Homo sapiens: one gene and its partners. The protein of the gene in region 3 purifies or fractionates together with the protein of the main gene of each other region. This does not show direct contact. Each region holds a gene or a part of one and is shown on either strand. Other genes may lie near its edges. The genes, in order: ARMC1, DNAJC17 and SUPV3L1.

Region 1 (3,500 bases), on a different chromosome or scaffold from region 3:
ACATTTGGCCAGGCACAGTGGCTCATGCCTGTAAACCCAGCACTTTGGGAGGCCAAGGCAGGTGGATCACTTGAGGTCAGGAGTTCAAGCCTGACCAACATACTGAAACCCCATCTCTACTAAAATACAAAAATTAGCTGGGTGTGGTGGCGCATGCCTGTAATCCCAGCTACTCAGGAGTCTGAGAGAGGAGAATCACTTGAACCCGGGAGGCAGAAGTTGCAGCAAGCTCAGATCACACCACTGGGCTCCAGCCTGGGTGACAGAGGGAGACTCCATCTCAAAAAAAAAAAAAACCACACGTTTAATAAAAATAATCAAATACAAAATCAACTAACAAGATCAGGTTGTAACATGTTCCTGTATTATCACTAACATTCAACTCTCAATTTGAAAGTACCTTGACTTTTAAGAAAATACAACATATAAAAATCCAAAAGGAGAAACCAAATTTGAAAAGGATCATTCATACTATCAACTAATTTCAAGATTTCTTTGTATGTTAAAACCAATTTTTTAATTTACATTTTTTACATATTACAAATTATGTGTTTATCATAAAACCACAGCTCTAACAAAAGTTTTCATTCTTAAGCTTTTAAATCCTACTACAGATCCTCACATCAACATCTAGGGGACTGTGCTGTCCAATAATCTTTCTGCAATGATAGAAATGTTCTATAGCTGCACTCTCCACTCACATGAGGCTACTGAGCACTTGAAATGTGGCTAGTGCAACTAAAAAAAATTAATTTACCTTTAATTAATTTAAATTGCCAAACAGAGTGAGTGGCTAACCATACTGGACAGCACAGTCTAATGGCTCTTATTAGTGGAACTGAACAAAGAGTAAGTACATGTAACTGTAAGAAAAGAATCCTCATTTCACCTATCAATGGGCTCAACTAAGTCCAAACCCTTTAATGTACACTCAAGGCCTTAAAATCTGGCCCCATTTGGCTATCTCCATCAGCTCATTTTGTCCTTCTATTATTCTTTGGGTTGACTATGACACTTGGCCATCTCCTACAAAGACCATGCATTTTTATATGTTCTTTGTTCTAGAATGCTTTCTACCCTTAAGTTTTGTTCAGGTCTTTCCTTAGCTGGAAGAGCTTCACCCAGACTGCAGGCTTTCCAACTCTTATTTCAATGCTTGAAGGGTCAGCTTGACCAACACCTTCTATATAATGCCTCTACCTAATAACCCAATTCTCCCTTTGCATTCAGAGTACTATGCTTGTACTTATACTACTGATCTTAATTTTCTATTTCTTTTATAAGTATATGAACTCTTTAAGAGGAGGAAGGTATCCTTTTTGTACCTTCCATAGAACCTAACAAAAATGTTTGCAAGTTATTTAGTGAATGAGTAGGAATACTTCAATTTCTGATACTCAGATTGTATATGTTCTAGCTACTTAGAGCTTTAATTCCAGGGGTGATAATCTGACAGTATTCCAGACACTCAATTACTATATCAAGTGCTTTTCTGAGCCACTGTTGACCACAGAGATAAGTTACTTTGGGTGACTTTAGCCGTGTGTTACAGAAAGCTATCAAAAGGACTAATTTGTATTAGTTGCCTCAGCATTTTTATTGATAGCTATTTTAGAGTTTATTGAAAAGTCACTGCAGTTCTCAGATATTTTAAATATTAACCAAGAACAAGTTATAAAGAGCATGAAGAGACAATGATTAGAGAAACTTACGAACTTAAGTTAAAAAAAAAAAAAAAAAAACAGGGCCGGGTACAGTGGCTCATGCCTGTAATTCCAACACTTTGTGAGGCTGAGGTGGGTGGATCACCTGAGGTTAGGAGTTCGAGCCCAGCCTGGCCAACATGGCGAAACCCCGTCTCTACTAAAAAAGCACAAAAACTAGCTGGGCGTGGTGGCAGGTGTCTATAATCCCAGCTACTCAGGGGGCTGAGGCAGGAGAATCACTTGGACCTGGGAGATGGAGGTTGCAGCGAGCCAAGATCCTACGACTGCACGCCAGCCTGGGTGACAGAATGAGGCTCCCTCTTAAAAAGAAAAAATGAATAAATAAAATAAAATAAAATAAAGTAGCCAGGTGTGGTGGTGGGTGCCTGTAATCCCAGCTACTCAGGCGGTGGAGGCAGGAGAATCACTTGAACCCAGGAGGCGGAGGTTGCAGTGGGCCGAGATCATGCCATTGCACTCCAGCGTGGGCAACAAGAGCAAGACTCCGTCACAAAAAAAAAAGAAGAAAGAAAAACTGTATTATTGTTACTCCTTTCCATTGTCAATAGTTTTGCATCAACTAGAAAATGAATCATAACACATAATAAAACATCCAATAACTGTCATACATTTTTTGAAAACCTGGATTATTTCAAAACTGTTTAATATGCTTAATGAAGCAATAGTGACAAAAAATATTAAAATACTAAAACATAAATTATCTTTCTGTTTTGCATAAAAACTGTAACAGTAATTCCCTCTCCCCTCTCCCCTCTTCCCGGTCTCCCTCTGATGCCGAGCGGAAGCTGGACTGTACTGCTGCCATCTCGGCTCACTACAACCTCCCTGCCTGATTCTCCTGCCTCAGCCTGCCGAGTGCCTGCGATTGCAGGCACGCGCTGCCACGCCTGACTGGTTTTCGTATTTTTTTGGTGGAGAGGGGGTTTCGCTGTGTTGGCCGGGCTGGTCTCCAGCTCCTAACCACGAGTGATCTGCCAGCCTCGGCCTCCCGAGGTGCCGGGATGGCAGACGGAGTCTGGTTCACTCAGTGCTCAATGGTGCCCAGGCTGGAGTGCAGTGGCGTAATCTCGGCTGGCTACAACCTCCACCTCCCAGCCGCCTGCCTTGGCCTCCCAAAGTGCCGAGATTGCAGCCTCTGCCCGGCCGCCACCCCGTCTGGGAAGTGAGGAGCGTCTCTGCCTGGCCGCCCATCGTCTGGGATGTGAGGAGTGCCTCTGCCCGGCTGCCCAGTCTGGGAAGTGAGGAGCGCCTCTTCCCGGCCGCCATCACGTCTAGGAAGTGAGGAGCGTCTCTGCCCGGCCACCCATAGTCTGAGATGTGGGGAGCGCCTCTGCCCCGCCGCCCCGTCTGGGATGTGAGGAGCGCCTCTGCCCAGCCGCGACCCCGTCTGGGAGGTGAGGAGCGTCTCTGCCCGGCCGCCCTGTCTGAGAAGTGAGGAGCCCCTCCACCCGGCAGCCGCCCTGTCTGAGAAGTGAGGAGCCCCTCCGCCCGGCAGCCGCCCCGTCTGAGAAGTGAGGAGCCCCTCCGCCCGGCAGCTGCCCCGTCTGGGAAGTGAGGAGCGTCTCCGCCCGGCAGCCGCCCCATCCAGGAGGGAGGCGGGGGGCAGCCCCCGCCCGGCCAGCCACCCCGTCCGGGAGGTGGGGGGCGCTTCTGCCCAGCCGCCCCTTCTGGGAAGTGAGGAGCCCCTCTGCCCGGCGGCCACCCTGTCTGGGAGGTGTACCCAACAGCTCATTGAGAACGGGCCATGATGACGATGGCGGTTTTGTCGAATAG
Region 2 (3,848 bases), on a different chromosome or scaffold from region 3:
CCCCACAGCACTCACATGCAGAGCTTACATCGGGAAACACAATGCCCGGGTGAGTGGGTTTCTTTCTCCCCACGCCCTGAGAAGAGTCTCACCTGCTCTGGGATTATCTGGATTTTTGTCTGGGTGGCAGGAGAGGGCCTTCTGCCTATACGCCTTCTTTACCTGGAAGAGTCAGACAGAAGACATGGCCATTCACTCTCATCCCAGGGACAAACAGGAAAACCTTGCTCAATGGGTAAGGGGAATCCCATGCACACCTAAAAGAGAAGCTGCTGGCGCCCACTTCCTAGCCACCAGGGAGACTGGCAATGGAGGAGGCCAAGGCCATGGAGGGAGTGAGCCACTGTCGCCCAGCACAGGAGCTGGGCCCACCTCCTGCTAAGTGCTCAACCTCACCACTGCAGATGTCCAGGGGCTGCTGCAACAGGCAGGAGCACAGTACCCCGCTTTCTCGACAGCCACTCGAAGACAGGTACTCTACACATTCTTGGTGGGCATATAAACTGGGGCAACCTATCTGGAAGAAAATTCAGCCATCAAAATTTAAAATGTTCTTTCCCTTTGACCCAAGTCCTAGGAATCTGGACTTGTAGAAGTATGGCAAAAATAAATATACAAGGATGCTCTCTACAACACTGTTGATACTAGCCAGCCAAGATCCCCATCAACGGGGAGACTCATTTAAAAGATTATGATTGGCCGGTGCGGTGGCTCACGCCTGTCATCCCAGCACTTTGGGAGGCTGAGGTGGACAGATCACCTGAGGTCAGGAGTTTGAGACCAGCCTCACTAACATAGTGAAACTCCATCTCTACTAAATATACAAAAATTAGCTAGGCATAGTGGCGGGCAGCTGTAATCCCAGCTACTTGGGAGGCTGAGGCAGGAGAATCGCTTGAACCGAGGAGGCGGAGGTTGCAGTGAGCCGAAATCGCACCACTACACTCCGGCCTGGCGACAGAGCAAGACTCTGTCTCAAATAAAATAAAATAAAATAAAATAAAAAATAAAATAAAAGATTATGATTGAGGCCGGACATGGTGGCTCACGCCTGTAATCACAGCACTTTGGGAGGCTGAGGCGGGTGGATCACTTGAGGTCAGGAGTAGGAGACCAGCCTGGCCAACATGGCGAAACCCCATCTCTACTAAAAATACAAAAATTAGCTGGGTGTGATGACATATTCCCCTGTAATCCCCCTACTTGGGAGGCTGAGGCATGAGAATCGCTTGATTCATGCAGGAGGCAGAGGTTGCAGTGAGCCAAGATTGTGCCACTACACTCCAGCCTGTGGGACAAGAGCGAGACTCCATCTCAGAAAAAAAAAAAAAAAAAAAAAGATTATGATTGGCCAGACATGGTGTAATCCTGTAATCCTGGCATGTAATCCTGTAATCCTCATGCCTGTAATCCTGGCACTTTGGGAGGCTGAGGTGGGCAGATCACTTGAGGTCAGGAGTTCGAGACCAGCCTCGCCAACAAAGCAAAACCCTGTCTCTATTAAAAATACAAAAATTAGCCGGGCATGGTGGCGTGCACCTGTAGACCCAGCTACTTGGGAGGCTGAGGCAGGAGAATCACTTGAGCCCCAGAGGCGGAGGTTGCAGTGAGCCGAGATCATGCCATTGTACTCTAGCCTGAGTGACAGAGGGAGACCTTGTCTCAAAAAAATAATAAAAAATAAATTTCAAAAAGTTTGTTCAGGAATTTGCCACGCTTATTAAAATTTTTTTTAAATAAAATATTATAGTAGACAGAGGTATCCATGTTCTGACATAGATCTTATTATAAACTTTTGAGTTTAGTCCAGGTGCGGTGGCTCAAGCCTGTAATCCCAGCACTTTGGGAGGCCGAGACAGGTGGATCACGAGGTCAGGAGATTGAGACCATCCCGGCTAACACGGTGAAACCCCGTCTCTACTAAAAATACAAAAAAATTAGCCAGGCATGGTGGCGGGCGCCTGTAGTCCCAGCTACTCGAGAGGCTGAGGCAGGAGAATCGCTTGAACCTGGGAGGCAGAGGTTGCAGTGAGCCGAGATCACACCATTGCACTGCAGCCTGGGAGACAGAATGAGACTCTGTCTCAAAAAAAAAAAATTTTTTTTTGTCAGGTGTGGTGGTGCATGCCTGTAGTCCCAGCTACTCAGGCGGTTGAGGCGAGAGGATCGCTTGAGCCCAGGAGTTCCAGCCAAGCCTGGGCAACATGGCAAGACCTCATCTCTACAAAAATTTTTTAAACATGAGCCAGGTGTGGTAGCATGTGCCTTTGTCCCCCTACTCAGGAGGCTGAGGTGGGAGGATCACTGGAGCCCGGGAGGTTGAAGCTGTAGTGAGCATGTTCACACCACTGCATTTCAGCCTAGGTGACAGAGTGAGACCTTGTCTCAAAAATAAAAATAAAAAAATTTTAAATTAAATTAAAATAAAATAAAAAATTAGCCAGGCATAGTGGTGCGTGCCTGCAGTACCAGCTACTAAGGAGGTTGAGGAGGGAGGATCACCTCAGCCAAGGATTTTGAGGCTGCCGTGAGCTATGATGATGCCACTGCACTCCAGCCTGGGTGACAGAGCAAGACTCTCTCTTAAATACATAGAAAGAAAGAAACCCCAATATTTCTTACATAAGTAAAAATAAACACAGCTACCAAGATTCTCTTTCGTGTGCTACCTAATAGCTGTTGTAAGTGAAGACAGTGTACACAACCCCAGAATCCGTCCTCTGCCTCCAAGGCCTTTGCTTTCTCCCTTCTGCTTGGTGTGTGTTACCTGCTGCTCAAACCTCCTGGAGGAAGAGCTAAGCAGATTGGATTTCTAAGCTTCCAAGATGGACGCAAGAAACGCTTCTACACCCAAGTGTGCTAAATAAGGACTTTCAGAGGTAAGCAGCCAGCATCCACAAGGTGAGCACCTGCTGGGCAACTCCTCCATCCATGAGGCAGCCACCGGGCCCAGGACCTCTAGGGGTGTGCTGCCACCTGCTGGGCCATAGCCAGGGCACCTGCCATGGCAGCCCAAGCTGTTTGGTTCTCCTGACTGCCTTGGAGGCAGCAGGAACCACCCAGGACAGGCGCTGGGCAGAGAGGGTGTAGACGTGCCACCTGCCTTCCCAATCGCCCACCGAAGCACATCTGCCCTGCCTGCTCACCTCCCACCCTAACCCTCCCTGCCTAGCTCTGTTTTCACTACAAAAAAGAACAATATTAAGGGAAAGGAGGTGCTAGCTTAAGACAGTGTCATCTTTGCAATATATCATCTTTACTTTTTAGGTCCCTTATCATTCGTCTTTTCTTTCTTTTGCTCTCTTTGCCTGCTTTATTGTGCCTCCAGCCTCATTCCTTTACTGAACATATTTTATATTTCAGGGCCCCTGTTTGCTTTTTTTCAATAAGTAAAACAATACCAAAAACATTATAAAGATGTTCTTTCTCAATCTCCCCAGCCCTCTGACATCAAGGTTCATTAACACATATAAAAGCACCTACACACACTGACAGGAGTCTGTTGGGTGTTTGTTCCTGGCCTCTGGGCCCCTCCTCTCTGATCCTATCTCCACCCTCTCTCTGGGATGGGTGAGAGGAAGGGAGGGGGAGGCGGTCCATGTCCCAGTATCTATGGCATCACCTGCAACACTACCTTCAAGATGAACTTCCTCAGGACTAGGACTAGTAGGCTTGCCCCAGGGATGTAGGGGGGTTTTGTGGAAGATGTTTTCTTTTGTATCATGGGGCTCTTTTAAAGTGGTTTAGGCTGGGCATGGTGGCTCACACCTCTAATCCCATCGCTGTGGGAGGCCGAGGTGGGTGGATCACTTGAGGTCTGGAGTTTGAGACCAGCCTGGCCAACATGG
Region 3 (3,500 bases):
GAGCCTGATTTGCCTTTACTTCCTTCCGGAATCTAGCAGCGGGAAGGAACAGGGAGAAAAGCAGTTTCTTCAGCTGAGCACACAGAGCTACATTAGTGGACTGAAAAATGACCAGAAGCCTGAATATAGACGAAACCTTGTATTGCTTGGGGCAAAAACAGCCCTAAGCAATACAACTTCATCCAGTGAGGAGAAGGTTAAATTTTGGTTAATATTAGTTAATGAGTTAGAATTGTACATATTTGAAACAAACTTTCTAGTAATAGTCAAAATTTAAAGTTCCCTGGAAAATTCACTTACATGGCTTATCTCATTTGTGACACTAGATGAAGGGGAGTATAGACATGAGATCATACAGGGAGAAGCATGCAGGGAGAGAAGCTTCCAGGGGAAGGCTGTGCTGGAATCATTTCTGTAACTTCTCAGCAGTACAGTTAGGTTCGTGGTTGGCTCCTGTGACCTCCCTGCTTCCCTCCTGGGCACCTCATGTCTTGGACTCTTCTTCCCTCCCTTATGACTAATTTCTCTTGCCTCTTTTCTTCTGTCTTTTTCATTCACTTTCTCTCTCTGTTTCATACTTCATTCCTTATACTTTCCTGTGGCCATGTCCTAACGGTGTAATGTGTAGCTAAAGAGAACTCACTTCCAGTTTAAAAATGTTCTCATGTCTTTCTAGATGTATATATCTATGTTAGTTTTATTGCCTTGGTTAAAGTGACTGGGTTTTTCTTATTCATTTTAATTCAATGAGGAGAAATGAGACATGGAAAATGGTTTTACCCTGGAAAACAGGTTTTTCTTTCCTTTTTTTTTTTTTTTGAGATAGTGTTTCACTCTGTTACTCAGGCTTCAGTGCTGTGGCATGATCACGGCTCACGGTAACCCCAATCTCCTGAGCTCAGGAGAGCCTTGCACCTCAGCCTCTTGAGCAGCTGGGACTTCAGGTGCTCACCACCATGCTTGGCTGATTTTTTAAAAATTTTTTGTAGAGATGGGAATCTCCTTTTGTTGCCCAGGCTGATCTTGAACTACTGTCCTCAAGTAATCCTCCCACCTTGGCCTCCCAAAGTGTTGGGATTACAGGCATGAGCCACTGCACCTGGCCGTAAAATCTTTTTTTTTTTTTTAGACGGAGTCTTGCTCTGTCGCCAGGCTGGAGTGCAGTGGCGCGATCTCGGCTCACTGCAAGCTCTGCCTGCTGGGTTCAAGTGATTCTCATGCCTCAGCCTCCCGAGTAGCTGGGATTACAGGCACGCAGCACCACACCCAGCTAATTTTTGCATTTTTAGTAGAGACGGGGTTTCACCATGTTGGGCAGGATGGTCTCAATCTCCTGACCTCGTGATCCGCCCACCTTGGCCTCCCAAAGTGCTGGGATTACAGGCATGAGCCACCACACCCAGCCCATAAAATCATTTTTTGTACACTGCCAGATCATCATAGGTTTTAGAAATATAACTAAAATGTAAGCAAAAGACTAATTTCTCAGTGGCCATAATCTGTCATTTTTACTAAATCATCAACTTTTCTAATTGGTAATAAATGGTAAAATGATATTTTTTCTCTTTTACTCAAATTCTTGGCATTTACTTCATATGGTGAGAGCTTAGCCTGAATGGGACTTTATCGTGCAATAACTTAAGAAAATTTGTCCTTTTTGAAAAAAAAAAAATCAGCTTATGATTGTTTTTTCTTTTACTAAAAGGCAGCTGGTCTTCATCCAACTGCTGAGCAGATTGAAATGTTTGCCTACCATCTCCCTGATGCAACACTGTCCAATCTCATTGTAAGTGGAAACTCCCTTTCACATCTCCCCTAAAAATGTTGATATGTCAGGTGATTACTGGTTAACCTCATGAGCATGAATGGATAGTCTGCCTTTGAGAAGTTGCTATTTATAAAATTTATTTTACAAGTGAAAATTTTTTCTCAAAATCTTTTGGGACTTTAGCCCTGAGGAATTTCCTCTCAGTATTTCAGGTGGGGAAGGATATGAGGGAGTGATTAAAGCAAGCCTTTATGGAAGTTTGTTCTGGATTAAAGAGATTGTCTTTTATAGACTTGAGTATGTTATTCATTGTTCATTTTAATTCACTTAGGCAGTCCAGTAATTTCTGTCTTTTTTTCCCCAAGGATATTTTTGTAGACTTTTCACAAGTTGATGGGCAGTATTTTGTCTGCAATATGGATGATTTTAAATTTTCTGCAGAGTTGATCCAGCATATTCCACTAAGTCTGCGAGTGAGGTATGTTTTCTGCACAGCTCCTATCAACAAGAAGCAGCCTTTTGTGTGTTCTTCACTGTTACAGGTAAGCCTTTATCTTTAAGCTATTTTGAGTTCCTTCTGGTTGATGCAGGTTCCCCAAACAGTACTTTGTTATTCAAAATAAAATAATTACAAGAGTATTCAGTAATATGAGAGACTTTGTAAAAACTTAAATAGGGGTTAATAGTAGCAACAGTGTTCAGTTTTCTTAAGTGTAAAGCACTGAGCCAGGGGTTACTGTCTTGTATGAGCACCATGCCAGGGTTCTAGCCTCTTTTAACTCATTTGGGTAGGGATGCAAATCTCTGACTTCTGAGAAGCACAGGATTCCTGGGGGCCAGGAAGGACAGTGGACTATGGAGAACCATAAATCTCTACCAAGGCCGGGTGCAGTGGCTCACGCCTGTAATCCCAGCACTTTGGGAGGCCGAGGCGGGTGGATCACTTGAGGTCAGGAATTCGAGACCAGCCTGGCCAAGCTGGTGAAACCCTGTCTCTACTAAAAATACAAAAATTATCCGGGCATGGTGGTGGGCACCTGTAATCCCAGCTACTCGGGAGGCTGAGGCAGGAGAATCACTTAAACCAAGGAGGCAGAGGTTGCAGTGAGCCAAGATCGCACCATTGCACTCCAGCCTGGGTGACAGAGCGAGACTCTGTCTCAAAAAAAAAAAAAACAAAACTCTACCAAGGTTTATCATAACAATACTTTTATTTAATTTAATTTTATTTATTTTATATTTGAGGCAGGGTCTTGCTCTGTTGCCCAGGCTGGAGTGCAATGGTGCAATCACAGCTCACTGCAACCTCAACCTCCCTGGCTCAAGTGATCCTGCCACCTCAGCCTCCCAAGTAGCTGGGACTACAGGCATGTGCCACCATGCCCAGCTAATTTTTGCATTTTTTGTAGAGACAGATCTCTCTATGTTACCCAGGCTGGTCTCGAGCTCCTGGAGGCAAGTGATCATCCCACCTCAGCCTCCCAAAGTGCTGGGATTACAGGCATGAGCCACCTAGTCCAGCCTAATATTTTAATTATTAAAAATGTTTTTGAAAGGATCCAAATGTCCAACAAGAGGGAAAAGGTTAACTACATTATGGCATATCCACTTGATTGGATATTAGGAAGACATTGCAATGATAATTATGATTATAATGAAGAAATCTACATAAGTGGTTACACTATAACAGTAAGTGAGGGAAGCGGTTCAGAACTGTATGTACCTTATAAAC

What was found.
Region 1: the proteins of SUPV3L1 (region 3) and ARMC1 fractionate together in Homo sapiens (co-fractionation; one large-scale study listed by BioGRID). This does not show direct contact.
Region 2: the proteins of SUPV3L1 (region 3) and DNAJC17 fractionate together in Homo sapiens (co-fractionation; one large-scale study listed by BioGRID). This does not show direct contact.

What each region holds. Positions count from the first base shown.
Region 1 is NC_000008.11:65,613,678-65,617,177, forward strand, and holds part of ARMC1 (armadillo repeat-containing protein 1), read right to left. Parts: intron 1-3,500.
Region 2 is NC_000015.10:40,779,836-40,783,683, forward strand, and holds part of DNAJC17 (dnaJ homolog subfamily C member 17), read right to left. Parts: intron 163-3,848; coding exon 93-162; intron 1-92. UniProt on the Homo sapiens protein: May negatively affect PAX8-induced thyroglobulin/TG transcription.
Region 3 is NC_000010.11:69,200,734-69,204,233, forward strand, and holds part of SUPV3L1 (ATP-dependent RNA helicase SUPV3L1, mitochondrial), read left to right. Parts: intron 1-1,705; coding exon 1,706-1,786; intron 1,787-2,133; coding exon 2,134-2,310; intron 2,311-3,500. UniProt on the Homo sapiens protein: Major helicase player in mitochondrial RNA metabolism. Component of the mitochondrial degradosome (mtEXO) complex, that degrades 3' overhang double-stranded RNA with a 3'-to-5' directionality in an ATP-dependent manner.